Homo sapiens: one gene and its partners. Changing the gene in region 7 together with the main gene of any one other region gives a genetic interaction. Each region holds a gene or a part of one and is shown on either strand. Other genes may lie near its edges. The genes, in order: DAAM1, CDC14A, CDC6, RFC1, ERBB2, LLGL1 and CHEK2.

Region 1 (4,165 bases), on a different chromosome or scaffold from region 7:
ATAGGTGACCTTAATTGTGTGCCAGCAGAAATACAGGTAGCCTTAAAACCCCAATCCTGGTGTAATTTATAGAACAGAATAAACCCAGGTTATTACTAAAGGTGAATGACATACTTAAAAAGTATAACAAGATGAGGCCAGGCGCGGTGGCTCACGCCTGTAATCCCAGCTCTTTGGGAGGCCGAGGCAGGCGGATCACGAGATCAGGAGATTGAGACCATCCTGGCTAACACGGTGAAACCCCATCTCTACTAAAAATACAAAAAATTAGCTGGGCGTGGTGGTGGACACCTGTAGTCCCAGCTACTCAGGAGGCTGAGGCAGGAGAATGGCGTGAACCTGGGAGGCGGAGCTTGCAGTGAGCTGAGATCGCACCACTGCACTCCAGCCTGGGCGACAGAGCAAGATTGTCTCAAAAAAAAAAAAAAAAAAAAAAGTATAACAAGATGAATGATTAAGAAAAAAGAAAAACCTTCTGAAATCAATGTCTGTTCAAAAAATTTTATGATTGTGTAGCCTAATGGCTAACAAGCCTTTTGTTTTCATGTTTCCCTTCCTGGCAATATGCCGTTAAGGCATAGCTTTCCTATTATTTCCTTGTGTTTTAGTCAATTGTCTTCATTAAATATTGTCTAAGTGGCACAATATCTAGTTTTAAGCCAAAAGGAAAAGATCTATTGTAAGTCACGAAATCGCACCAACTGCATTGGAAATTGAACTTGCTTCCCTGGTTTTCCCCATTTAATTCACAACTGTGGCTATGGTTTAAAAGAATAGAAATTGTTTATTTGGCACCAAATTTGCTCCACTGTAAAAATAAATAAAAGTATCTCTTCTGAGGTGGGGGGAAAAAGTTTATTTTAATATCTAAGGCTATCCAATATTAGATTACATGTTTGACTACTGCTCAAGTGTTCATTATTTTCTTTTCAAAAGAGCTTTCACAATGTATGTTAAAAGACTACAGGGAAGAGGGAGGCTGAGAAATTATGGGCCCTCTTAACTCTCAACACAGGCTTCTGTGGCCCTGTTCAGGGTGAGAAGATCTTTTATCAGATGAGGGATTCAACCCAGTGAAAAGTTACCTCACTTAACAAATAAGGTCTAATGCTGGACAGGCTCCAAACAGATTTAGAGTTGTAATATAAGAGCATTTCCTTTTTCAAATAATTTGTCTATCGTTCATACAGCAAAGGAGAGCTCCAAAGTTTTATCATTTAAATACTCAAAAACAACATTTTTAATCTCACACAACATTTTCTGTTCCAGAAAATCAGGCTGTAAGAACCTGTGACATGAAGAAGTCATTTTACTCTCAATTAATCCAGGACTTACTGACCCAGCACTGTCTGAGAATTAAGAGACTCAAAGGAAGCTGTGATTACCCCAACTCGAGTTGCAGAGAAAAGAATAACGTGCCGGAAAGTCAGAAACCAGGCAACATCAGGATGTATAAAGAACTAGACTGCTTGAGTCCCTAACCTGGTCTGCCACTTACAGGCTGTGTGGCCTAAGCTAGGCAAGTTCTTTAACTTCTCTGTGCCTCAGTTTCCTCATCTAGAACATGGCAATAAAAGTATCTATCTTGTATAATTATGTGCAGTCAATGACGTAGCCCATGGAAAGTATTAGAAAGGGCTTGGCATGAGGTAGGCACCTCACATACAATATCGGTATCAAATTAGCTGTAAGTGTTGTGTGGTCAAGCTAAGTGCTTTAAGGAGGAAGGGCAGGGAAGGCTTCGTGGAAGCTGTGGCACCTGAGCTAGATATGAAAGCACAAGATAATCCAGACACTCAGAGGGAAGCACATTCCAGACGTGGACAGCCATTACTGCAGAAAGTCACAGACAGAGTAAAAACCAGGAACGCTTAAACATCAATGAGGAAAACAAGCTCACCAAAGCTGAGGGTGTATTTGGTAACCCCAGATTAATTGGGAGTGATGGGGAAGGCTCTGCACACTTGTTGCTGTGCTTCTAGGACTTAACATTCAGTTCATTTTTAGACACATGTTCTATGTATGCAAACTTGTGGACTATGAATGCAAACTCTCCCTGAAATGCTCTGTTCTCCCCCTGCTCCTAGAACAGTGGAAAGGATACTAAAAAATTAAAAGGTAACCTTTTATTTCTGAAAAAAAAAATCTGCTGGATGAAATATAGGTCACTAAAATCAACTTGAATCTCATGTTCGTCTGTCCCTGTTTCAGTGGGGCTACAAACAAGGTGACAGCTCAGAGAAAGGGGGTGAACTTCAGATCCACACTTCAACGCTGGTCTCTATCAGCAGCCTCAGCCACTCTAAATAATATAATCTACATAAAAGACAGTACACTTGCTAAGTGAATGCATCTTCAAGAGGGGTATCATCCACCCTAGCCTGATCTGTCAACCAGACATTACCTCCAAGCCACATACAGAAATAGAGAAAATGCTCTCAGTACCAGTTTCTTAAATAGTACCTGTGCAATCAATTTCCTCTAAACTTTGAGGGTTTTGTTGTTGTTGTTGTTGTTGTTGTTTTGAGACGGAGTCTCGCTCTGTAGTCCAGGCTGGAGTTCAGTGGCGCAATCTCCGTTCACTGCAAGCTCCGCCTCCCTGGTTCAGGACATTCTCCTGCCTCAGCCTCCTGAGTAACTGGGACTACAGGCACCCGCCACCACACCCGGCTAATTTTTTGTATTTTTAGTAGAGACGGGGTTTCCCCGTGTTAGCCAGGATGGTCTCGATGTCCTGACCTCATGATCCTCCCGACTTGGCCTCCCAAAGTGCTGGGATTACAGGCTTGAGCCACCGCGCCCGGCCTAAACTTTGAGGTCTTGAAACCACTACAACAGATGCTGTGCGTACTTAAGATTGGTATTCACTTAGAATATTACCTCTATTACCAAGTTAGAAATTGTAATACCAAAATAAGTCACCATATTCCTCATCCAAAGAGGAAAAAATCACAACAGAATATAGAACTTCTATTTTGACTGGTGTCCCCTCTAGAGAGAAAACAAGTTTGCTAACCCAAGTTGGACACCTTGCTTTGTTTCCGGCAATATAAGGATAGACTTAACACTGGAAATACCAGAGCACGGCTTGAAGCCAGGGAGGGCCCCACAGCAGTTACAAGCTCTGTGATTATTTCCTGAACCAAACACCTAGGGCACTCAAGGATACCAAGCTTTGTTGGAAAAGCATGTTTCCTCTGGTCCAACAGCTGCAACTTTAAAGTGTTTTCACACAAGACCTCAAGTTTCTCTTTATGCCATCTCCCAAATATTTACAAAATGAAACACTTTCAATCAGAACTTTTGCTTGTAAACACCTTATTTGTTTTAAGGACCATAGTGCCAACACTAAAAGCAGCCTTTTAAACAAAGTAGCTCAAAACCACACACACACACACACACACACACACACACACACACACACACACCCCTTAACAAGCAGAACATGTCCACAAAACAAGAAAGCCAGGATTCAAATTCCTTAGCACCTATTCATGGAGCTCCTGTAAGCACCACCCAAGGATGTGACCCACCACACCCTCTTCATTATCACACCTCCTCACTAATTTACTAATTTATGCTCCTGAAAACCCACAGAATCAGACTACTGGATGGTAACATGTTACAAATATTGGGCAAATGTTCTTTCACATTTCTTTCACATCAACCAGCCTGAAACAACTGATCCTGTTTACGGAACGGCTCTGCCTCAGGTGAGAGGACTATTGTCTCCCAGCTCTTCTGGGAGACACTGGTGGCCTGGCAAAGGCTTCTGGGTATCTTTCTCTTGGTGTCTCTCCCTATTCACGTGTCACACACCTCCTGGGAAGATTATCTGGGCCAAGGATAGTGCAACTGAGAGAAATCTAGAAATGCCTGGTTCAGGGGTAATAAGAAATTGTAACTACAAAGAAACAGTCGATGTGAGTGAATGTATTCTAAAAGCAAATAATTAGGAAATATGTCTATTTCAAATACATAGAAGGCCTTTTATGCCAGACAAGTTTTGGTTTATGATGAAATGAAACTGCTTGATAGAAAAGCTAAGGGGAATATTACCACGGATGACAGAACTATCAGTGGAAATAATAGACCTTGGATCTCCAATCATAGTTCTGCTACTTAATATTCGTTTAACATATATTTATTAAAGACCTACAAATGA
Region 2 (4,165 bases), on a different chromosome or scaffold from region 7:
TCTAACTCCTAGGCTTGTTCTGAGGATTAATTGAGTTAATGTGTGCGTGTAAACCACTTAGAACACTGCCTGGCACAGGGCTATACATGTTAGCTGCTGCTGCTGCTGCTGTTGTTGTTGCTATGGCTTTATTATTATTCCCACAATGAAATTTGTCTCGAGGTTCAACCAAATCTCCTCTTCTGTCTATATCATAGCAATTTATAATGAGAATTGAGGTTCTAAATGATGACCGTAAGGCTCTATCAGATCATATATATGTGTATGTGTGTATATGCTTAAGTGGCATTCAACCTTCCATTAAATTATCCTACTTGCTATACATTTAATTTGAAATAAAAATTTAAAAACCAAAAGGGTTTCTCCTGACCTACCTCTAACCTAAATATGCATTCCCACAAATATTTCTAGGCAAGAGTAGTTTTTCCATGCTTCTCTCATAAATATTCTATGTTCACATTTTGACTCAAAACTATGCTATAGACAAGATAAAAGAAATCATTTTTCTATAAATTACTTATCCAAAACTTCCTGGATGCATTAATATCAGGCTGCTTTAATTAAGTTTAAATGAAAATTGAATGTTTTAAATTATTTAAATCTTCCATTTAGCTAATTAGTTCTCATTAGAGGCTGCTCATTCTTAACATGCTAAAACATTTGGTGAAATTCTTCAAGTCACTTCAGAAACTGCTTAAAATTCAGTCCCTAGAGTTTCTCCCTAAAGAGCTCTTTCCTGCACTTTCAATACCTTTCTTCACAACTCAAAAAGAGAAGAAATGACAATGGACAGGCTGAAAATGAAGACCCTATACACTATCCTTCCCAGCAAACTGGCTTTCTATGCCATGAACATCCAACCCTACACCCATGACCACCACTAGGAGGGGCACACAGATGTCATAACAAGTAATATATTTCATTTCACTAACTTTTTAGCCACACAAAAGTAAGCCAAGTTATTAAAAGTAAGCGCCTGTTTGGATTACGGGGCCCAATTCCAATACCAAAGAACAAGCCTTTCCAGGGAGTGGTGTGTTATTTGTAGCTTAATCAAATGCAGATAAATCTTCTTTGAAAGGCTCCCTTTTTGTGGAGCTATTTTTGTACCACTAGTGTGTTAGCCTATACTTTGATTTTAACTCTGACCTGTGAAATCATAACCCAAGGACAAAGGATGATTTCTTATCATCCTCATTTTATTAAAGCTGCCCAGGCCTTTATAGTAATAAGTTCTGTTTTAAAAAATCAAGCAGATAATTCAAACGTTCACTTTTAATAGCCTTACCTCATGAGGCCACCTCATTAAATTTTCTCCACCAGCATCTCAGAAGGTTGACATTTCAATCATGGAATGCTGTCCTCCTTTCATAACTAAAGAAACATCTGCGCAAAACACAGCTGTGGCCAGAATATCCACAGCCTAATATTTAAAGAGTCTACTTCCTGATTCAAAAACAATCGCTTCTAAGGTGATAATTTAGCCAGAAAAGCAGCATTTCTTTCTTTTTTTTTTTTTTTTAAGAGATGGGGTCTCACTATGTTGCTCAGGCTGGCAGGCTGGCTTTTCAGTTCAACTGCAGGCCTCAAGCAATCCTGTCGCCTCAGCCTCAAGAGTAGCTGGGACTACAAGCACACCCAGCTGGAAAAGCAGCATTTAATTTAAACATTCAGCAAATAATTACACAGTACAAAGGCCTGTGTGATAATGAATATAAATATATTCTTCTCCTCAGAGACATGCACATTATGATGTGATAGTCAAAATCTTTCTCGCTGTAGGACGTCCTCCAGACAGAGCCCGGGTTACTAGACATCCTTCTAGGGGCTTTGCAGTCTCTCTCATTCTATACTTCCCCAAAGTGGAGCTGACGAGATGGAGTCAGTCCTTCTCCCTTTCTCCTTTCCCCTTCAGTGTTTGTCCACCTCTTTGTTGCGTACTTCCACCTTCCCTTGCTCCTCCCATCCTGGTTCTACTTGTGAAATACAGACCTTGAGACCTTCTCTATCTTCCCAGAAATCGCATCATTCTCACAGCTTTATTAGTCTCTTTGGGAAAATTCCCAAATTTAAGAACCTCAAATGTATGTGATATCTAACAGTGATGTAAATATCCCTTAAATTTCTTAAATTCAATCTGGCCAAAATGGAATGCCTGATCTTCCCACCAAAGCCAATTATTCCACCCTCCTTCCTTATTTCAGTTAAGAGCTCCAGTAGGCTCACCACAACCTAAGCTGTCTTAAGGACTTCTTTGATCCCTCTTTTTCCTCAGCACCCCTCCACGCCACCCTCCTGTGTTGCCAGGTCACATGGCTTCAGATCGCTTCTTTCCATCACCATTGTCACCATCCTAATCCAGGTACTTGTTTCTTTCCCCTGAATTTTTTTTTTTTTTTTTTTTTTTTTAGACAGAGTCTTGCTCTGTAGCCCAGGCTAGAGTGCAGTGGCGCAATCTCAGCTCACTGCAACCTCCACCTACCAGGTCCTGGTTCAAGCAATTCTCCTGCCTCAGCCTCCCAAGTAGCTGGGATTATAGGAACACGCCACCATGCCCAGCTAATTTTTGTATTTTTAGTAGAGACGGGGTTTCAACATGTTGGCCAGGCTGGTCTTGAACTCCTGGCCTCGTGATCCACCTGCCTCGGCCTCCCAAAGTGCTGTGATTACAGGCGTGAGCCACTATGCCTGGTCCCCCCTGAATTTTTTTAAGTGGGCTCTTATCTCCTTAACAACCCCTCTTAAATGATGCTACTGTATTAATTTTTTGAGAAGGATATATGTCCTCTGCAACTAGATGACTTGGTTTCAAACTCCAGCTCTGCTACTTTTACTTCTGTGACCTTGGGCAAGTGACCCAGCTTCTCTATGCCTTTTTGTACAATAAGGATAATAGTGCCTGTCTCACAGAATTGTTGTGAAAACACAATGAATTAATAGTTATAGAGCACCTAGAACAGCATCTGGCACACATTTAAATGCTCAATAAATGTTTCCCATTGTTTGTAATTAGCACAAATCAAGTCATACCATGGCTGCCCCAAATCCCTCAAGAGTCCCATGGTGTACCAAAGAAACTGCAGGTTTCTCACCCTGACATTCATTCTGTCCCCAGCCAACATCTCAATTTCACATTCTCCATCCCCTACATGTTCCCTGAATACACACCAGGCAAACTGGAGGACTTACTGTTCCCTGAACACACGTCCCAAGCCTCTCCCCTCCTCACACTTGCTGTTTTCCAAGATCCCTCCTCTCATGTCTCTGCCTGATAAGACCTTGTCCATCCTTCAAGCCAATCTTAACTCTTCCACGAAGCCTTTGCTGAACGCTTCCACCAGATGTGCCCCTACCTGCCTGTGAATGCCTCTCCTAGCATAGAGGTTGTATTTCTCTTTGGGCAGGTATCTTTCCTATACCTCAAACTGCAGTTCTGTTATTTTCCCTACAGGCTTGGAGCTCTTTGAAGGTAACATATGCATTCAACATTGTTTTATTCTCTGCATCACCTAGCACCATGTAATATGTTGGGGTAACAAAAAAGATGGAGTTGGAGGTGTCAGAGCCACAGCCATTACTGTGGCACAGTAGGGTAAGTTCAAACTAAGAAAAGTACACACTCTGCCCAGGCTGAAGTCCTCATCGTATTTCAAATGTCAATCCCAACTCACAATATAAATTGGATGGATTCTCCAGCAAGTCTTTCCTTATAAGATACCAGAAAAACAGTAGACTATAAGAGGAATATGATTTGTAGGCCTATCCCAAAATACCAACATGAAAATCACATTAAAAATTTCCCTCATCTATCAATATTAAAATCAAAAAGCCATCATGCACAGTGTTTAGTTTGGCTTAATTTTCTGCTAGATCTACCACCTAGCAATCCCAAGAGAAGTGACTCAGATCTCCATGGCTAGAGCTCATTCAATGACATATTAACAACCACTGTACTGTAGAATTGAACATAATGATATATACACCATCCCCACTCTCAGACTCATGAGAGACCCCCAAAACCTAAAATCACAAAAACAGAGGCACAACAATGCACATTCCCAACAACAGAGTGAACACTCAATAAACACTGCTGGCAGTGACATCATCCAGGTACACAGCCGCACATAACTCCATCCTGTCTAGAAGCAGAGCTGTAATCTGACAC
Region 3 (4,800 bases), on a different chromosome or scaffold from region 7:
CAACCTGGCCAACATGGTGAAACCCCTCTACTAAAAATTCAAATATTAGCCAGGCGTGGTGACGCGTGCCTGTAGTCCCGGCTACTCAGGAGGCTGAGGCAGGAGAATGGCTTGAACCCAGGTGGTGGAGATTGCAGTGAGCCGAGATCATGGCACGGCACTCAAGCCTGGGTGATAAAATGAGACTTGTCTCAAAAATAAAAAAAAAAAAAGCTTCCATTGTGTGGTAACTTTCTCCATTCATGGCAGCCCATTCTCTTCACTTTTGTAGTTTTCAGCTGCTAAAAAGCCTTCACGAAATGTACTCCACCATCTCTTCCTGTTTAGAACCTGAATCTGTCTAATCATCCCCCTATGATAAAGTGGTCAAGAGTTTGATTTTCTGTCAGAGTTCAGAGTTCAAATTCTAGCTCTTCCACTTACTAGTTGTGTGACCTTGGGCAAGTTTACTCAACTCCCCTCTACTGTAGTTCCCTCATTTGTAAAGTGAAATAACACCAGGTTCATGGGGGTGCTTGTGAAGATTAATAAGGTGATGTAGGTAAAATACTGAGCACAGCCCCTGGCATACACTTAAGCACTCAATATTGGCTCTCTTCATGAACTAGGTACCAATTCACTGATGATCGTAATATTGTTGCTTCCCTCTTTCTAGGCTTTATGGCTCTATTTTGTTTGTTACTGAGGGGTAAAAGATAAATGTTTACCATCACCTAGAATTGGGTTCTGGCCTCTAAAGGAACCTGAGGCTTAGATGAATTATTGGCTTTGGAAGCTGGCCTTCAAATTACTGCGCTAATTTATATTTTTCATTAAAAACTCAGCTTGCCTCTTCTATATAGCTGTCTTCCCTGGCCCTGAAACCCTAGTGTTTCGCCATAAAAGATTTTAAAATTAAGGGGTCATAATTCCCTCCCCATGATGTGTGGATTAATGGTAAGAAGATGCACAGAACATAATATTCTTAGGTTGAACGAAATAAAAGTAAAGAGTTGGCTCTGTTTCTCACCTTTGAAGCACAAATCAAGAGATACTATGATGAAGCATAGTTTTTCTTTATATAGGTGTGTAGAACTTTACCATAAAAATCACTAGTTCAGCCATCAGGAGATCTGGATCCTAGGCTCTTCACTGTCACCAAGATGCTGTGACCTCTAACCTTGTATAGAAGTTTGCTTTGTACTTTGCGAGGTTGAGCATTAGAGAGGTAAGGAAAGTGCCTAGCATCATACCTGGCGCACAGAACCCAAAACGGTAGGTATCATGTAGCAGTTCTGAAAATCTAGCCCATCAGGATGATGCAAATGGGTACTTTAGGCAGTGAGAAGGGGAACCACATCTTGACACTTCCAGTCGAAGGAAGAGTGCGACTGCGCGGCAGCAAAGACTACGCCTCCCAGCGTGCTTTGCGGCGGGCCGGCCCGCTTTACCCAGAGTCGCCCTGCCGCAATCGCGCGTCTTTCCACCGAGGCCCCGGATGTAGATTCCCTCCCCCGTTCAGTGGTCGTGGCCTCACAGCGACTCTAAGACTTGGGGCTCTCTCATTGGCTGTAACTCTTCCACTGGATTGGTAGCAAAAAAAGAGGCGGTGCCCAAGGCGAAAGGCTCTGTGACTACAGCCAATCAGAATCGAGGCCGGGCTTTGGCGGGAGGTGGGAACGCTGTGGCCATTCGGATTTGGCGCGAGCGCGGCTGGAGTTTGCTGCTGCCGCTGTGCAGTTTGTTCAGGGGCTTGTGGTGGTGAGTCCGAGAGGCTGCGTGTGAGAGACGTGAGAAGGATCCTGCACTGAGGAGGTGGAAAGAAGAGGATTGCTCGAGGAGGCCTGGGGTCTGTGAGGCAGCGGAGCTGGGTGAAGGCTGCGGGTTCCGGCGAGGCCTGAGGTGAAGTGAAGGGAAAAGAGCTGAGCTCGCTGGAGGTCTGAGGTCGGGATCAGGGAAAGGGCAGGTGCCCTCGGGGTAGTTCTAGCAGTTATGCGTGGTGTGAAGGAGGTGAAAGTTGTAGGAAGGAAATATTCTGGGGTGCGTTGAGAGCTGCCTAGAATGAGGACTGAGTGCAGGGGCGGAAAGAACTGAGGGAAGACTGAGCTGCAGTGTGAGGGCTTGGGATAGAAGAGACTAAATGTGGCGGGTGCTGGGCTGAACTGGTGATAAAGACACCCCGCGTGCCTGGAGGGAGGAAACTAGAAGTTCTATATAAATCAATTCATGTAACTTTTTTTTTTTTTTGAGACGGAGTCTCGCTCTTGTCGCCCAGGCTGTAGTGCAGTGGTGCGATCTCGGCTCACTGCAACCTCTGCCTGCCGGGTTCAAGCCATTCTCCTGCCTCAGCCTCTTCATGTAGCTGGGACTACAGGCGCCCGCCACCACGTCCGGCTAATTTTTTTTTTTTTTTTGAGACGGAGTCTCGCTCGGTCTCCCAGGCTGGAGTGCAGTGGCGCGATCTCGGCTCACTGCAAGCTCCGCCTCCCGGGTTCATGCCATTCTCCTGCCTCAGCCTCCCGAGTAGCTGGGACTACAGGCGCCCACCACCACGCCCGGCTAATTTTTTGCATTTTTAGTAGAGACGGGGTTTCACCGTGTTAGCCAGGATGGTCTCGGCCCGTCTCGGCCTCCCAAAGTGTTGGGATTACAGGCGTGAGCCACCGCGTTTGGCCGTAATTTTTGTATTTTTAGTAGAGACGGGGTTTCTCCATGTTGGTCAGGCTGGTCTCGAACTCCTGACCTCAGGTGATCCGCCCGCCTCAGCCTCCCAAAGTGCTGGGATTACAGGCGTGGGCCACCGCGCCCGGCCCATTTCAGGTAACTTGTTATTGCATCGCTCAATTGGTTAAGAACTTGGGCTCTGGCACCAGATGCCCGGGGTTACATTCCTGTTTTTCTGTGACTTTGGGCCACTGTTTATCTCAGTTTTCTCATGTGTAAAATAAAGGCTAATAATAGTACCTACTCCTAAGATCGTTGTTAAACGAGTTGGTACCTAAAGTGTTTATAACAGCGCCCTTCCACGTAGTAGGTAGACAACAAATGTCAGCTGTTCTTGCATAGATTTGGATGTGAAGCAAAAGTGAATGCTAAAATAAGTGTGATAACATAATTAGGAAATAAGTGTTAATCATCAGTATAAATAAATTCCATGTTAGTTATTTTCTCTTCACTTTCACATATTGACTAGTTGTCCTCTTATTTTTTTTAATCTAGCTGTGCTGTCGTCATGCCTCAAACCCGATCCCAGGCACAGGCTACAATCAGTTTTCCAAAAAGGAAGCTGTCTCGGGCATTGAACAAAGCTAAAAACTCCAGTGATGCCAAACTAGAACCAACAAATGTCCAAACCGTAACCTGTTCTCCTCGTGTAAAAGCCCTGCCTCTCAGCCCCAGGAAACGTCTGGGTAAACCATCCATTATATCACTTTTTCACTAGCAGCTCGTGACCTTTCTTTTCTTGGTAAGATGTGTGTCCTTTGAAGGAGCTTTCTAAGTTCAGTTAAGACTTCTTTTTTTTTTTTTTTTTTTTTTTGAGACAGAGTCTCGCTCCATCTCCCAGGCTGGAGTGCAATAGTGCGATCTTGGCTCACTGCAACCTCCGCCTCCTGGGTTCAAGCGATTCTCCTGCCTCAGCCTCCCAAGTAGCTGGGATTACAGGCGCCCACCACCAAGCCTGGCTAATTTTTTTTTTTTTTTTTTTTGGATTTTTAGTTGAGACAGGGTTTTGCCATATTGGCCAATCTGGTCTCTGAACTCCTGACCTCAGGTGATCCAACTGCCTCGGCCTCCCAAAGTGCTGGGATTATAGGCATGAGCTACCGCTCCTGGCCTAAGACTACTCTTCATTTTAGTTATTTTCAGAATGGTTGCTAAGTGCTTACCGAACTCCAGAGTTAGACACTTACTGAGGTCACTCTGAACTACTTAATAAGTCTGATCTTCAATTCCTTAATACTGAACTTAGTTCTGTCAATGTTTTAAGTTACCTTGTAGTTACATGGTATTATGAAACTTACCTCAATATTTGTGAAATTAAAAGAAACAAAAACGTGACATGATGAATATTTTCCATCCTTTAGGACAGTGATTGGTAATTCTTTCTTGTTTTGGAACATTTATTTTTAAATGGGGGGTAATTTGGTTGTTTCTGGAGACATTTTTGGTTGTTACAGCTGGGGGTTGCTACTGGCATAGTGGGTAGAGGCCAGGGATGCTGCTAGACATTACAATGCACAGGACAGCTCCTTGACAATGAAGAATTATTTGGTCCAAGATGTCAGTGGTGCCAAGGTTGAGAAAACCTGTTTCAAAATAGCCTTACAATTTCATCCTACTAAAACCCATTTGGTTTCTACTAAATGCAGTAGTCCCCACTTATCCATGGGGGATACATTCCAAGACCCCCAGTGGACGCCTGCAATCGAGGACAGTACCAAACCCTACATATACTGTGTTTTTGATTTGATAACCAAGTCAGCTACTAAGTGACTAGTGGGTGGATAGCATATACAGTGTGGATATGCTGGCTGAAGGGATGATTCATGTCTTGGGTAGGATGGTGCGGGATTTCATCATGGCACTCCACAGCATGCAATTTAAAACTTGTCAATTGTTTATTTCTGGAATTTTCCATTTAGTATTTTCAGACTGAGGGTAACTAGAACGGTGGATGAAGGGACTACTGTAGTAAGATCAGTGGTGCCATCTGGTGACCAATATTTGCTGCTAAGTGAGAAGGCATTTTATTTTGGTGGTTCTGACTAAGGTAGAAATTCACCTCTTTCTGGAAGAGGCAGAGGTCTTGCACATCCTTTT
Region 4 (3,868 bases), on a different chromosome or scaffold from region 7:
CCTTGATCATGGCATCAGTTTCTATAGCATCTTGGTCTTTCTCATCAGATTGAGAGTCATCTTCATTTAATTCTTCATTGTATTCCGAATCCAGGGATGGGCTTGTGCTGTGTCTAGATGCCTTTATAGCTTGAAGTGAGTATGGAGTAAGGTGGGCTTCCTTATTGTAAGCTCTTGTGAAGGCTGCTTTCACCTATATGAAAGGAGTAGATGGAGTTTTTAAAAATCTAAGTCCCAAACAATTCTTTTAAACTCTGTAAGCCTAAAGAGACCCTGGGAGCCCCCTGCAACTGTTTGCAAAGTATTTATGTATATACATGTAAATCTAAGTACGTGCATTTTTCTGTGGATAAGTTCCATATTTTTCATAACATTCTTAATAGAGCCCATGACAAAAAAGACTGAAGGTGGGGCACAGTGGCTCATGCTTCTCCATGAGAATCTTGAACCCAGGAGGTGGAGGTTGCAGTGAGCTGAGATTGCGCCACTGCACTCCAGGCTGGGTAACAGAGTGAGATTCTGTCTAAAAAAAAAAAAAATACGTATATATATATTTGGGAACTTTAGGCAAACAAACAAACAAAAGGTCACTTCAAGTCATCATGTTTACCTATTCAGCATTCTCCACATTTCTACAAAGTAGTAAGCAAAGTTAATCAGTGAATCAGTAAATCAAAAAGGGGCTCGGCTGGGTGTGGTGGCTCACGCCTGTAATCCCAGCACTTTGGGAGGCCAAAGCAGGCAGTTCACATGAGGCCAGGAGTTTGAGACCAGCCTGGCCAACATAGGGAAACCCCATTTCTACTAAAAATACAAAACTTAGCCAGGCGTGATGGAGTGCACCTGTAATCCCAGCTACTTGGGAGGCTGAGGCATGAGAATGGCTTGAACCCGGGAGGCAGAGGTTGCAGTGAGCCGAGATCGCACCACTGCCCTTCAGCCTGGGCAACAGAGCTAGACTGTCTCAAAAAAAAAAAAAAAGGTTGGGGGAGCTCATCACAAGATATAAGTTGGCCTTTAATTTCCACAAAACACTAGATACCTTTTCCATAATAAGAGTAGTTACTTCAAAATACTAAGTAACTTGAAAGTCTTACCTTCAAGCTTCTAAACATAATTCCTGAATTAGTCCATGAATTCTAACAATGGATGTCTGCTGTGAGAATTTACTGATAACCATAAAGTCGGGTCAAAATTCTGGGGAGGGCAAACTACAGAGAATATGTCTTCTAAAACGCATTCATTACACAGGTGCAAGAGTTGGGTATTGGATGTTACATATTCATGATGTATCACTTTAGTTTTTTTCGTCTCATTATAAGAAAAGTGGGGATACATTATTACAGAGAAGATTATCCAACTGGAATAAATACTGAATCCACAGATTAGGTAGACTAAGAAAAAGAAAATTTGTACAAATCCTCAGCCAATAAACATATTTTATTTTTACAACCCATTACCACCAGAGCTCACCGCTCAACTTTTAATTCCCTAGACTCATCCACTCATCCTTTATAAAGAATATATTTATATTTGCTCCTCAAATTTCACTTCTTGCTTTTCCACTGAGCATAAAGCAAAGATAAAAATACAAATTGTAAAGTCAAGCCCAGAAGTCTACTCTTAATACTGCATTCAAATAGTATCTTTGGAAAATATAGGCCATAAGAAGCAACAAGCATTTGAGGGGAAAAAGAAGTAAATCTTAAAGCATCTAAAACACCTCCGAAGTATTGTCAGTACAAACCTGGTAATAGAAAGTGACGAAGAACCAGTGAGTGACATGATTTACCTTGGGATCCAGCTTTGAAAAGGGACTAGGTTTGCCACCCCAGCTGCTGATTTCCATGATATTCTCAAAGTCTTCTTTCATCAAATAATATGTGTCCATAAGTGCAACAACATCCTGTACTCCGTCTACTCCTTGTGAGGTCAAGGGCTGTACAAGTGCATCCCTTAGAAGCGACAGATAATCCATGTTTACAGTCCTTTTGCTGGAGTAAGTTCTGAAACCACAACAAAAGAGACATAGTCAACAGCAAAGTATCAACTCAAGTCATACTGTGCATAACAGCACTGAGTTAATCAGGCAGAGTTCAATCCAATTTCAATAATGCTGAATGGAATGCCTACTATTTGACAGCCAGCTGGTGTAGTTTAGAAAGCCCAGCACCACAGCATGAGGGTAATGGGTACACATCAATGTGCCCAAAGGAAATTTTCTACTTACCTACATCAGTGACTGAAAAACATACGTGGATTCTACTTCCACCCTACTCTTAAGGCCCAGGCAACAGAATGTTTCTTTGTGTTCATAAATATGACTCGTTCCAAGTTCCAAAATATTAAAAGCATCAGTATAAGGCAATGAAATTCCCTATCTCAAGTGTGTGAATGTGTATAACACCTTTTGGTCCCTGATTATAACACACAAAATCATATATGAATGCTTCCCTCACATTTCCTAATACTGTTACTCTGAAATCGTCAGTTCTAGAGCCGGCTTTTCTCCAAATCTAAGAAAATTACAGAGTGTTCCCACAAAATCAAAAAGTGATCCACAGTGGCCAGAGGAAGGTTTAGGGAAACAGTCTCTGGTCTGCTGAGAACTCGAATGTTATCATAAAATGACTCTTTCTTTCTCTCTTAAATGTTGTCACTTCTTAAAGACAGAAAGCAACTGAACAAAACAATATTTCAAATGCCACCATCCTAAATCTTTCCAACCCAGCTGCCTCTATCTTCAAACCAGGCATTTATATGTATACATTATTTATTTATTTATTTATTTATTTATTTATTTATTTATTTAAAGACGAAGCCTCACTCTTGTTGCCCAGGCTGGTGTGCAGTGGTGCAGTCTTGGCTCACTGCAACCTCCACCTCCCGGGTTCAGGAGGTTCTCCTGACTTAGCCTCCCAAGTAGCTGGGATTACAGGCACCCGCCACCACACCCGGCTAATTTTTTTTTTTGTATTTTTAGTAGAGACAGGGTTTCACCATCTTGCCCAGGCTGGTCTCAAACTCCTAACAGGTGATCCACCCGCCTTGGCCTCCCAAAGTGGTGGGATTACAGACGTGAGCCACCGCACCCAGCCTGTATACGTAAAACTTCAAAAGTTGTTGTTATCAGAACCAGCATCAGAAGCAAAAAGAAATGATTCTTTACAAATTGTCTATGGGTCCTGCTCCTGCCTTCAAGGAACTGAATGTGTGAACCATAAGAAGCCACAGCTTTTTTCCTGATCAGAAATCTAGACTCACCCTCGCAACTATTACCTAGACAAAGAGTTTTTAAAACTCTCCTAGTTTAATTTCATCCATTTCCTCTAGATTGTCTTCCATAATTAAGCACGCTAGTACTTAAAGGAAGCAGTGTGAGTCCCTAAGCCACAGTACCCCCAGAAATCATGAAACCATTTCCAAAACTGTTCTACAATGTTTTACAGTATCATCATCTTCTAATAGACTCATAGAAAAGTCAAAGATGCCATTTAGTGCACCTAAACCAAGGGTTCTTAACCTCAGGAATCTGTAATTCCCCTAAAAGTGTTTTCTTTGTGGATCTGTGCATTGTCAGGGGAATAAAAATCAAAGCATTCAGATTCTCAAAAGCATCTATGACTCCCAAAAAGGTTACAAACCAATAAGATCACTCTTCCATTTTTTAAAGAAGAGAAACGGACCTACAAAAAGTTCAGTGACTTGATCAGGGTTAAAAAGTAGGGAGGTCTTAATTTACTTTAAAAATTATGAATTCACTATAAATGTCTTTGCTGATAATAATGGCCTAAATATGACCCAACTACTAGATGAGGAGGCCGCAGTTCCCACCCCCAAAAATGTTTGGTCTAATGAGGGAAGAGGA
Region 5 (3,898 bases), on a different chromosome or scaffold from region 7:
GCTGGCATGCGCCCTCCTCATCTGGAAACTTCCAGATGGGCATGTAGGAGAGGTCAGGTTTCACACCGCTGGGGCAGCGGGCCACGCAGAAGGGAGGGTCCTTATAGTGGGCACAGGCCACACACTGGTCAGCCTCCTGGGGGGGGCAGAAAAGATTTGTGGGGGGCTGGCACTGACACCCCCAGGGCAGTAGGATCAGGCCCTTAGTTGGGTCCCCTTTGTGCTTCCCAAGGCCACCCAGCAGCAATTTTCGCCATGCTCCTGGGACAAACACCCTTGCTCTTCACCCAGTCTCTGTGGCCCCTCCCTCGGGGCCCTCCTCCAAGCTTGATCCTGGGCAGGGACTTGAGCCAGAAAATGGGAGGCACCCAGAGAGGAAAACGCATTACCTAAGGTGTAACAGCGAGTAACAACAGTCACTGCTCTGTAGAAAGCCTTTCCCGTGCTTCACTGTGCCAAGCCCTGTTTAATTTCATTCTTGCCACACCCCAGCAAGGTAGGTATTATTACAATACCCATTTTAGGAATAAAAAACCAAGGTTGGAAGCAGGAGCTGGGTCTGAATCCAGGTAGTCTGACGCCTGAGCCCACAGGGCTCACCACCCTAGCACAGCCACAGTCACAGCCACCAACACAGACCTCCTTAGAACCTTTTCATAGTCTGAAGGGCCCCAGTGTCCCCCAGGCCCCTTTTCTGCCACTCTGTTGCTGTTCAGGTCTGAGCGCTGAGCCCTCTCCAGGGATATTTTACCAGATAGCACACCCTACTGCATCTCGCCATCCTGCCAAGTCCCTGGCAATCCCCCTCGCTGCCCCCCTCCACCCAGCTCTGAGCCCGCCAGCAGCTCACCGGTCCAAAACAGGTCACTGAGCCATTCTGGGGCTGACACTCAGGGTGGCACGGCAAACAGTGCCTGGCATTCACATACTCCCTGGGGAGCCTGAGAGAAGGGACAGTGGTGAGGGGGTCTGAGAGGAGCCCCATGCACCCCTCCAGCCACCCTCTCCTCCGCCCCTCATACCCCTGCAGTACTCGGCATTCCTCCACGCACTCCTGGCCCCGAAGGAACTGGCTGCAGTTGACACACTGGGTGGGCCCTGGACCCCAGCAGTGCCCTCGGGCGCACAGCTGGTGGCAGGCCAGGCCCTCGCCCACTGCAGTGAGGAGGAAGGGACCGCAGGGGACTTTTAGGGGAGGCCCCAGGTCCAAGTGAACCAGGGAACTGGCTGTGGGCATGGCTGTGGGCTGGAGGGGTGGGGACAGGTGGGGCCGATGTAGGGAGAGGAAGAGTTCTGAGATTTCAGAAACAGAGGGGGAGGGAAGGATGCCAAGGCAGGTAGGACCCAGCTAGAGAAGCCATGCCAAGAGGCCAAGCCAGCCAGAGCTGTGCTGAGTCAAGAAGGGTGCACAGAGACGGGCAGTCTGCACAAGTCCAAGAACGCTGCTGCCAGGGCCCCCTGGGCACTGCTGTGTGCTGGCAGATGGGGAGTGCGCACACTGGGCTCCCTGTCTTACCACACTCGTCCTCTGGCCGGTTGGCAGTGTGGAGCAGAGCTTGGTGCGGGTTCCGAAAGAGCTGGTCCCAGGGCACCGTGTGCACGAAGCAGAGGTGGGTGTTATGGTGGATGAGGGCCAGTCCACTGCCCAGTTCCCTCAGTGAGCGCAGCCCCAGCCAGCTGATGCCCAGCCCTTGCAGGGTCAGCGAGTAGGCGCCACTATGGGAGAAAGGTGGGCACCTTACCACGGACCCCTTCCCGGTCAGCAAAGGCTATTCTCATCTTCCTCCATCCCCAGCACACTCTGCAGACTTTCATGGAAAGGTTACTGCTACAGGAGTACTCCCTCAGGCCCAAAGCTTCCCACAGGGACTCCTCCCTGGGACTCCTCCCCATCAGGCCCCCTCTTTCTCAGTGCTCACTTGTGCAGAATTCGTCCCCGGATTACTTGCAGGTTCTGGAAGACGCTGAGGTCAGGCAGGCTGTCCGGCCATGCTGAGATGTATAGGTAACCTGCAGGCAGAGGGTGAGATTAAAGGAGTGGGGACAGGACAAGGACTCCCAGCCCCTGCAGAACAGGATGCAGAGACAGAGCCCACCTGTGATCTCTTCCAGAGTCTCAAACACTTGGAGCTGCTCTGGCTGGAGCGGGGCAGTGTTGGAGGCTGGGTCCCTGGAGGGGTCAGGAGAGGAGTCAGCAGGGCCAGGAACAGGGTGGACATCACTCCCAGCACTGGCCATGCCAGCCACTCCCCACCATGAATGCCTTCACTCAAACCCTTTGCCCATCGAGCCCAGCTGTTCCCATCCTGGGCTTCAAAGCCCAGGCCTTAGTTCGGCAACATCTATCAAAACAGTATTTATATCCTTTGATCTAGAAATCTTATTTCTGCCTGGGCTCAGTGGCTCACGCCTGTAATCCCAGCACTTTGGGAGGCCGAGGCGGGCGGATCACGAAGTCAAGAGATGGAGACCATCCTGGCCAACATGGTGAAACCCCATCTCTACTACAAATACAAAAATTAGCTGGGTGTGGTGCCGCGCGCCTATAGTCCCAGTTACTCGAGAGGCTGAGGCAGGAGAATCACTTGAACCCGGGAGGCAGAGGTTGCAGTGAGCCGAGATCACACTACTGCACACCAGCCTGGCGATAAAGCGAGACTCTGTCTCAAAAAAAAAAAAAAAAGAAAAGAAATCTTATTTCTAGGAATGTGGCCTAGGGAGACACTGGCCCATGTTCCCAGAGCCACACACAAAGTGGAACTGTTTGTAAGAGTGAAAATGGAACATGATCTAAATGTCTATTAGTAAATAGGGGAGCTGTTAAATAAAACCCCGAGCCACCCAGCCACATAATAAAAACCAACATTTAGGAGCACCTAGTATCTGCCAGGCACTGTTCTAAGAGCTTTACAAATATTAACTCATTCAAACTTTATAATCATCTGGCCAGGCATGGTGGTATAACCATCTTATGAAGTTGGGACTGTTCTTGCCCCCACTTTACAGATGAAGAAACTGAGGCACAGCACAAGGGTCACATGCCTAGTAAGTGGTAGAGCCGGGTTTCAAACCCAGGCAGTCTGGCTCCCAAGTCTGGGCTCTTAGCTGCCTCTCCTTGCCGCCACCTGCTCTGCAGCTATTGAAAGAACAAGGCAGTTCAATGGGAACTGTCATGACCGGCTCTCAAAGCAAGGTGCAGACAGTGCTCCCTATATGTTCCCATTTACAGAAACCAACCTCCCCACCAAAACGACGAAAACCACACTTCACTGTGTGTGTGTCTACAGATGCATAAACGGTCTAGGTGAACACACACACTGTTAACCATGGCCCCCTCTGGAAAGGGGAGTGGAGGTAAAGGAAGTGTGAAAGGGAATTTTTTTTTTTTTTTTTTTTTTGAGACAGGGTCTCATTCTGTCACCCAGGCTGGAGTACAGTGACATGATTTCAACCCACTGCAACCTCCACCTCCCAGGCTCAGGTGATTCTCCCACCTCAGTCTCCCTAGTAGCTGAGACTACAGGTGCGTACCACCATGCCCGGCTAATTTTTTGTGTTTTTTTGTAGAGATGGGATCTCACTATGTTGCCCACGCTGTTCTTGAATTCCTGGGCTCAAGCAATCTTCCTGCTTCAGCCTCCCAAAGTGCTGGGATTACAGGTGTGCACCACGGCGCCTGACCCTTTTTTTTTTTTTTCTTTTTGAGACAGGGTCTCACTCTGTCGCCCAGGCTGGAGTGCAATAGCGAAATCTCAGCTCACTACAACCTCCACCTCCCGAGTTCATGCAATTCTCCTGCCTCAGCCTCCCAAGTAGCTGGGATGATAGGCGCATGCCAGGAAGCCTGGCTAATTTTTTATATTTTTTAGTAGAGATGGGGTTTCACCATGTTGGCCAG
Region 6 (4,165 bases), on a different chromosome or scaffold from region 7:
GGCCTGACCATCCAGGAGTCCTCCCTGAAGAACGGAGGCCCCCTCCCTAAAGCTCCCACTCTGCACCCCTACAGTATCCCCAAGATCAGTGTGCAGGCTCCACTCACTCCTGCAAGTCAGGTGCTGCTATAGGACCTTCACTTCCCGTAAATTGGGCCAGTGACTCCCACTTTACAGGACTGTTGCAGATCAAGTGAGAATAAACACACCCAGCAGGCTTGGCCTCAGCCTGGTGAGAGGATGGGGCTCCGCTCCACTTCAGCTCCGTGTGTCTATGGGTTCTGGGAGCTGCGCCTTGCCGGATGGGATCAGGCAGGCCAGAGGTGCAAGGCCAGGCCTGGACAAGAAAGCCAGGGGGCAGAAGAGTCCAGGCTGCCTTTTCCCACAGCTTCAGGCCAAACTTCAGCCATGGGTAAGAAAACCCACCTCCTCTGGGCACGGTGGCTCGCTCCTGTAATCCCAGCACTTTGGGAGGCCGAGGCAGGTAGATCACAAGGTCAGGAGTTGAGGACCAGCCTGGCCAAGATGGTGAAACCTCGTCTCTACTAAAAACGCAAAAATTAGCCGGGCATGCTGGCAGGCACCTGTAATCCCAGCTATTTGGGAGGCTGAGGCAGAGAACTGCTTGAACCCGGGAGGCAAAGGTTGCAGTGAGCCAAAACTGTGCGACTGCACTCCAGCCTGGGCAACAAAGAGCAAGACTCCATCTCAAAAAAACAAAACAAAACAAAAAAAACCCACCTCCCTCCAAAGCAGGCAGCCAACAACTGCCATCATGAGGGAGGAGAGACTCCAGCCTGCCCATTTCACAGATGAGCACACAGACTTGGAGGGGGTGGATGACCTGCTTGAAGTGCCCAGTGTCAGTGCCTGAGTCCCGGCAACTCCAGGGCTGATGGTGGACAGCAGGGCCTGAGGGGGCCCCATGACAGAGGGTGCAGGGAGGAGTCAGCAACGTTGCCCCGGTGACAACACAGGAGCCGTTGCCTGGAGCTTGAGCTCAGATTCCCTACAGGAGCCTGGCGAGAAACTCCGAAGAAGGGACAAAAGAGGGGACAGGAGCAGCTGGGCGGGAACCAGGGTCGTCAAGGAGATGGGGCTGGCCTGGCAGGGGGAGGGGCAGCTTCTAGTGACCAGGGCTGGCCCTCTCCAGCCTCAGTTTCCCAACCCAAGGGGCTCCAGGCAGTGGCAGTCAGGGGAAAAAGGGAAGAGGACCCCGGGCTCCAGCCTCCTTTCTGAGGCTCAGTCTCCTCATCTGCACTTCAGGTTCTTTTTGAGCCTGAGGACAAGTGCACTGGAGACCCCAACACAGGAGGGACACCTGAAGGCTGCAGGGACACATGTGCGCACGCAGCGCAGCACCCACAGGAGTGGGAGCAGCAGGCCAGGCAGCGGAGCATGTGGGGCCCAGAGCACTGCCACACTCACCAACAGAGGCCGCTGGGGCCATGGGAGAGAAGGGGACATCTCAGCCCATCCACACTCCCCAGAGTAGGCAAAGAGCTCACAAACCACAGGCTCAGAGTCCCATCCCTGCCTGATCAGTGCCCCCAGTCCTGGGGTGAGGAGACCCCCATCCCACACCCTCCCCTTTCCCAGCACTGACACATTTTCTGGGAACTGATGTCTGAAACCAGGATACTGAAACCCAGAAGGCCACACAGGAGGGGTAGGGGTCAGCACCCCTCACCAAGCCGCCATCAGCCAGACCCTGGCACCTCGGCTTCCCCAAGAGCAGTTGGGGTGGGATTCTCCAGGGCTGGCAAGGAGACACTGAGCTGCCGGCCTGCCCCCACCCCCACCCCAGGCCTGCAGGGAAAATGCCCGCTTTGTGTGGCTCACACAGCCCATTGTGCAGCAGCCAGTATCCAGGTGGGGGCCGTGCTGTGCTCACCATGCCGAGCCTGGCACTGCCCCCAGGCCCCTTTGCTGAACACATGTGTCTTCACATTCACACATGTGTGCATCAGCTCACCAGGGCCCCCAGCCCACCTGCCACCCTCCATGGGTATCATAGCCCAGCCTTCTGCCTGGCCTCCCCAGAGTTGCTGGGACGATGGCAGGGTCGCCTAGGTAACTGGCTGGCTGACACGTAGCAAGGGACAGCTGTGCTACTGCAAACTGACCCCCCACCACCCGTCTCTCAGCAAAAGGACCCCATCATCTCTGCACAGTTGTCTCAGGTACAGAAGCCACGCCAACCTCCGCAGAAGCCCCCACTACTGCCCATCAGAGCACCTCTGTCCTCCTCTCGAGCTGGACACTGCCAAGACTGGGACCCCAGAGCACAGGGAACTACAGGCAGGTGGTCCTGAACAGACCCTGAACACCTGTCCTGCAAAGGATACATCTTGACAGCCCCAGACCTGGTGCCGATGGCCATGATGCGAAGTTCCGGGTCGAAGGCCAGGGCGCTGGGCTGATTGGGGAAGCCATGCTCCACAGTCTGCAAGGAGGGGAGGGCTGCTGGGGGTAAGCACTCCCAGGCACCTCTGCCATGGCCCACCCTGAGGCCCACCCCAAGGCAGCCTCCAGGGTCTGCAGCTGACACACTGGGGGTAGGAGGCAGGTCTACTTGCTCTGTGCCTCAGCGTCCTCAACTGTGAAATGGGTTATCATGCCTCCAGTTGGTGGGGAGGTGGCTAAACCCCTAGCCTCCACCATGACTGTACCGCGTGCATAGTCCACAGAGGCCCGCCCTTTGCCAAGCCCCTGTGCCCCTCAATGCACACAGGCTCATGTGGGCCCCACTGCATGGAGGCTCCAGCAACAAACAGGTGAAGCAAGGCTCACAGAGGTGCAGGCACTGATGAGGCCCCACCTGCTCCATGAAGGGCTCTGCACCCCATTTTTAGAGGCACAGACTAAAGCTTGCGGAGGAGTCCCGCAAGATGACCATGACACTCCCCAAACACAGGCCTGAGTGGAGGTCAGAGGTCAAGGGACAACATCCAGGATCAGCTAGGCAGAGGCTTTTGACTCCTCCCAGACACAGGGAGACAGAGGCCCAGAGAGGGGTAGCTTTCTGCCTGGACCCCGAAGGCATCCTCCCACCTCCCCACCTGCCAACAGCTGGGCAACATGACTCCCATAACCATCAGGGGCGGAGATGGTGTTAAGGGGGTCTGTGTGCCCAGAGTGTCGATGAAACAGCTCCCCACCCGCTCCCCTGCCCCTTTCACAGCACACCCTTTCTGCACCAGTCTCCTGTCTTTGGCCTGGCTGTGCCCTCCCTGGGAAGCCTGCACAGCTGAGCTCCAGCCCCATCCTGAACACCAGTGCAGGACACCCACGTGGGCCACTGGTAACTCCTTTTATCTTGTTGTTGTTATTTATTTTTCACTTTTACCACTGGTAATTCCTGACCCACTGCCTCAGGAAGATGCACATTTGTAAGAAACCCCAGTTCCCAGCCTGTAACGCGAACCTCCCTCCCTGCCTGCCTCTGCCCATCCAGGTGGGGACTGAGCCCTCTGGGCAGCTGGTTTGGTCACGGCCTAGCTGTCTGGCCTTGGGCAAGTCACAGTACTCTCCAAGACTCAGTACTCTCCAAGCTTCAGTCTCTCATCTGGGCCCTTGGGACAGTAAGCCCACCTAAGGACAGAGTTGGCGATTTGGCTGGGGCTTCTCTCTCCCACCAATAATACCACGCCCTTGCTGCACCTGACCTTGTCTAGCCAGTCCCTCGCTACAACCAGGGTCCAGAGACGGGACACTGCATCGCAAATCCCCACAGCCTTCCCATTTTACAAACGAGGAAAGGAGGTTACATGCACTGTCCAGCATCTGCTTCCCTCATACCCCACGTCCAGTCCATTTCTGAGCCCCATCAACTCAGTTTCAAAACACACAGAAGTCACCTCCCTCCCTGCTCCAGGCCCCACCGTCACGTGCCTGGATTGGTACTCACTACAGTCTGTTCCCACAGAGGCCAGAGGGATCCTATGAAAGCCACAGCCAGATCCTTGTCCCTCCCCTGCTCAGGATCCTCCTGGGGCTCCCAGCTAAGGGAGGCTTGTGCCTCAGGGCCTTTGCACCTACTGCCCCTCTGCCTGGAACGCACTTCCTCCAGCACTTCCTGTCGCTCAGGAGTAATCTCCTCAGAGAAGCCTCCCAAGGCCACCCTGGCTGCAGCAGCCGCCCTGGCCACACCTCTCACCCCCTC
Region 7 (3,500 bases):
GATTCTCCTGCCTCAGCCTCCCGAGTAGCTGAGAATACAGGTGCCCGCCACCACGCCTGGCTAATTTTTTGTATTTTTAGTAGAGACGGAGTTTCACTATGTTGGCCAGGCTGGTCTTGAACTCCTGACCTCATGATCTGCCCGTCTTGTCCTCCCAAAGTGCGGGACTACAGGAGTGAACCCCCGCGCCTGGCCCCCTGTATATATGAAATTTAAATGTAGTGTTGATTGTATCAGTACATTTTTGGTTTCAGTCTTAATTTAAAAGAATTGGACAAATGTAAGCTTTTATGAGCCCCCCAGCTCAATTTTATTGCTTTTTACTTATTTGTAACCTTCAGATAATTTGTTTTTCCCTGTAGTTTATGGCTGTCAGATAAAAAACTGATCTGGTGACAATGATCTGGTGAAAAGCTCAGCCCAGAAGAACTATAGGTCTGGGCTGTTAGGACTTTTAATTTTTGGAGAGCATGTTTGCCCTGTTTTTTTTTTTTTCTTTTCTTTTGCTGTTGTAATAGGCCCATCATTTACTTTTTAATTTTAAGTCTTGTGCCTTGAAACTCACCTTTGTTGTTGGACACTTTCTTTTTGAGGTCGTGATGTCTCGGGAGTCGGATGTTGAGGCTCAGCAGTCTCATGGCAGCAGTGCCTGTTCACAGCCCCATGGCAGCGTTACCCAGTCCCAAGGCTCCTCCTCACAGTCCCAGGGCATATCCAGCTCCTCTACCAGCACGATGCCAAACTCCAGCCAGTCCTCTCACTCCAGCTCTGGGACACTGAGCTCCTTAGAGACAGTGTCCACTCAGGAACTCTATTCTATTCCTGAGGACCAAGAACCTGAGGACCAAGAACCTGAGGAGCCTACCCCTGCCCCCTGGGCTCGATTATGGGCCCTTCAGGATGGATTTGCCAATCTTGGTAAGACCCTTTGTTGTATAGTATCACGTTTTGTTCAGAAAAACACTTACAGAAAGTTGTATTACCAGGTGGAAGGTTCTGATTGGAGTTGTCCAGGTTTTTGGCACGTTGAACAAATAATTGAACATCATGCATGAACAAGCAATGAAAGCATAGATTTATTGAAGTGGAAGGCAATAGAAGCTAAAGTACATGTCACAGGATGGGAGCAGGCCTGAGCAAGTGGCTGCAGAGCCCTTGTAGCAAAGTCTTCTGGGGTTCAAGTACCCTCTAGAGGTCTCCCACTGTTTACATCCTATGTAAATGAAGTGCTGGCTCACAGCCCATTAGAGGCCAAAGTGAATTGGAGCTCGGCCATTCCAAGACTGGTGTGGATTGACGCCTTATGCAAATGAAGGTCCTAGAATGGACGGATCATAGGCCAGAGTGCAAATTCTTCCTTTTTTGTTTAGTTTCAGGAATTTTTTTTTTTTTTTTTTTGGCAACGGAGTCTTGCTCTGTCGCACAGACAAGTGCAGTGACGCCATCTCGGCTCGGCTCACTGCAGCCTCTGACTCCTGGGTTCAAGCGATTCTCCTGTCTCAGATTCCTGAGTAGCTGGGATTACAGACACACACCACCACACCTGGCTAATTTTTGTATTTTTAGTAGAGACGGGGTTTCACCACGTTGGCCAGGCTGGTCTCGAACTCCTGGCCTCAAGTGATCCTCCTGCTTCGGCCTCCCAAAGTGTTGGGATTACAGGCATGAGCAACCGTGCCCATCTATTCCAGGAAGTTTGCGTGAATTGGCCATAGATTCCCTGCCTTCAGACCCTATTTTCCTGCCTTAGTTAGTTGCAGCAGAATGCTTGAGCCACTCTTAGAATAATTCTGGAGTTTGAATGTGATAAAAGGTAAAACCAAAGAGGCAGTATTGGGTGTTGCCCTGGCTGTTACCTGCTGTGGATTCTGTTCATTTACTCTTTCAACAAATAATAATTGGACATTTACAATGTGCTGTCCATCCAAAGATCTGAAGGTAGCTTTGGACCCTCTTCCTAGAAAAATGCAGATTCACTCAAACTTGCAAACATTATCCCCTAATCACAAAAGCTTCACTAGTTAACCTCTGCTGTGGTTTGCCACAGCTTCAGAGAATCAGAGCTGTTCAGAATAGAGATGGCCATTTGTTGACTACTTGTTACTTGTTTTTGTCTCAAAATAGCCAACCTTGTGATTTAAACATGTTGACCCTTTCTGACACCTCCTGGTTCCAATAGTAAGTTTTGCTCTGCATATGTTTAAAATACACATGTGTGTATTTTAACATTGCCAGGCATGGTGGCTCACGCCTGTAATCCCAGCACTTTGGGAGGCCAAAGCGGGAGGATCACTTGAGGCCAGGAGTTCGAAACCAGCTTGGGCAACATGGCAAAACCCTGTCTCTCCTGAAAATACAAAAATTAGCCAGGTGTGGTGGCGCATGTCTGCAATCCCAGCTACTCAGGAGGATGAGACATGAGAATTGCTTGAACCTGGGAGGCAGAGGTTGCAATGAGCCAGGATTGCACCACTGCACTCCGGCCAAAAAAAATAGTGTTTTTTTTCCTTTCGCTTACATTGCAATGACCTCTTTAATAAACAAATTTGAACTTGGCATTAACAGGATAGAATATGTTAATATAAAGAAATGAAGGACTGATGTATCATTTTGTGTTTTGTCACTCACCATCCTTGTTTTATTTCATGTCTAACTTTGATATCTTGAAAAAACTATAAAAAATGGAGGAATATACCTGCATTCCACATATACAACTTTAAATTTATAAGTAGACACTCGAAGCTATTTTTAACTGATTTAAAATATATTTTTCAGACCGGGCATTGTGGCTCATGCCTGTAATCCCAGCACGTTGAGAGACCAAGGCAGGTGGATCACCTGAGGTCAGGAGTTTGAGGCCATCCTGGCCAACATGGGGAAACCCTGTCTCTGTTAAAAATACAAAAATTAGGCCAGGCGTGGTGGCTCATGCCTGTAATCCCAGCACTTTGGGAGGCCGAGATGGGCGGATCACCTGAGATCGGGAGTTCGAGACCAGCCTGACCAACATGGAGAAACCCTGTCTCTACTAAAAATACAAAATTAGCTGGGCATGGTGGCGGGCTCCTGTAATCCCAGCTACTCAGGAGGCTGAGGCAGGAGAATCGGTTGAACCTGGGAGGCAGAGGTTGCAGTGAACCGAGATCTCGCCATTGCACTCCAGCCTGGGCAACAAGAGCGAAACTCCATCTCAAAAAAAAAAGAAAAAAAAATTTGCGGGGCGTTGTGGCAGGCATCTGTAATCCCACCCACACAGGAGGCTGAGACAGGAGAATTGCTGGAACTTGGGAGGTGGAGGTTGCAGTGAGCTGAGATTGCGCTACTGCAGTCCCGCCTGGGTGACAGAGCGAGATTCCGTCTCCAAAAAATAAACAAATAAATAAAATACAATATATTTTTTCAGATAGGCCTATAGGTTTAGATGAGTGAGAAATAGAAATGGTGAGAAAGGGCTAAATGGGATACATCACCTTTAAAAGTAAGAAAACAAAGAGGCTGGG

Evidence for each region.
Region 1: changes in CHEK2 (region 7) and DAAM1 are lethal when combined (synthetic lethality), as found in Homo sapiens cells (one large-scale study listed by BioGRID).
Region 2: changes in CHEK2 (region 7) and CDC14A are lethal when combined (synthetic lethality), as found in Homo sapiens cells (one large-scale study listed by BioGRID).
Region 3: changes in CHEK2 (region 7) and CDC6 are lethal when combined (synthetic lethality), as found in Homo sapiens cells (one large-scale study listed by BioGRID).
Region 4: changes in CHEK2 (region 7) and RFC1 are lethal when combined (synthetic lethality), as found in Homo sapiens cells (one large-scale study listed by BioGRID).
Region 5: changes in CHEK2 (region 7) and ERBB2 together harm fitness more than expected from each alone (negative genetic interaction), as found in Homo sapiens cells (one large-scale study listed by BioGRID).
Region 6: changes in CHEK2 (region 7) and LLGL1 are lethal when combined (synthetic lethality), as found in Homo sapiens cells (one large-scale study listed by BioGRID).

What each region holds. Positions count from the first base shown.
Region 1 is NC_000014.9:59,191,413-59,195,577, reverse strand, and holds part of DAAM1 (disheveled-associated activator of morphogenesis 1), read right to left. Parts: intron 1-4,165. UniProt on the Homo sapiens protein: Binds to disheveled (Dvl) and Rho, and mediates Wnt-induced Dvl-Rho complex formation. May play a role as a scaffolding protein to recruit Rho-GDP and Rho-GEF, thereby enhancing Rho-GTP formation. Can direct nucleation and elongation of new actin filaments.
Region 2 is NC_000001.11:100,355,103-100,359,267, reverse strand, and holds part of CDC14A (dual specificity protein phosphatase CDC14A), read right to left. Parts: intron 1-4,165. UniProt on the Homo sapiens protein: Dual-specificity phosphatase. Required for centrosome separation and productive cytokinesis during cell division. Dephosphorylates SIRT2 around early anaphase.
Region 3 is NC_000017.11:40,286,210-40,291,009, forward strand, and holds the start of CDC6 (cell division control protein 6 homolog), read left to right. Parts: upstream 1-1,669; 5' UTR 1,670-1,881; exon of another isoform or gene 1,882-1,923; intron 1,924-3,198; 5' UTR 3,199-3,211; coding exon 3,212-3,389; intron 3,390-4,800. UniProt on the Homo sapiens protein: Involved in the initiation of DNA replication. Also participates in checkpoint controls that ensure DNA replication is completed before mitosis is initiated.
Region 4 is NC_000004.12:39,289,847-39,293,714, forward strand, and holds part of RFC1 (replication factor C subunit 1), read right to left. Parts: intron 2,007-3,868; coding exon 1,793-2,006; intron 194-1,792; coding exon 2-193; intron 1-1. UniProt on the Homo sapiens protein: Subunit of the replication factor C (RFC) complex which acts during elongation of primed DNA templates by DNA polymerases delta and epsilon, and is necessary for ATP-dependent loading of proliferating cell nuclear antigen (PCNA) onto primed DNA.
Region 5 is NC_000017.11:39,713,558-39,717,455, reverse strand, and holds part of ERBB2 (receptor tyrosine-protein kinase erbB-2 isoform a precursor), read right to left. Parts: intron 2,171-3,898; coding exon 2,097-2,170; intron 2,011-2,096; coding exon 1,920-2,010; intron 1,738-1,919; coding exon of another isoform or gene 1,717-1,737; coding exon 1,517-1,716; intron 1,186-1,516; coding exon of another isoform or gene 1,156-1,185; coding exon 1,023-1,155; intron 942-1,022; coding exon 851-941; intron 390-850; coding exon of another isoform or gene 288-389; intron 137-287; coding exon 1-136. UniProt on the Homo sapiens protein: Protein tyrosine kinase that is part of several cell surface receptor complexes, but that apparently needs a coreceptor for ligand binding. Essential component of a neuregulin-receptor complex, although neuregulins do not interact with it alone.
Region 6 is NC_000017.11:18,228,222-18,232,386, reverse strand, and holds part of LLGL1 (lethal(2) giant larvae protein homolog 1), read right to left. Parts: intron 2,447-4,165; coding exon 2,349-2,446; intron 1-2,348. UniProt on the Homo sapiens protein: Cortical cytoskeleton protein found in a complex involved in maintaining cell polarity and epithelial integrity. Involved in the regulation of mitotic spindle orientation, proliferation, differentiation and tissue organization of neuroepithelial cells.
Region 7 is NC_000022.11:28,731,821-28,735,320, reverse strand, and holds part of CHEK2 (serine/threonine-protein kinase Chk2), read left to right. Parts: intron 1-593; coding exon of another isoform or gene 594-599; coding exon 600-918; intron 919-3,500. UniProt on the Homo sapiens protein: Serine/threonine-protein kinase which is required for checkpoint-mediated cell cycle arrest, activation of DNA repair and apoptosis in response to the presence of DNA double-strand breaks.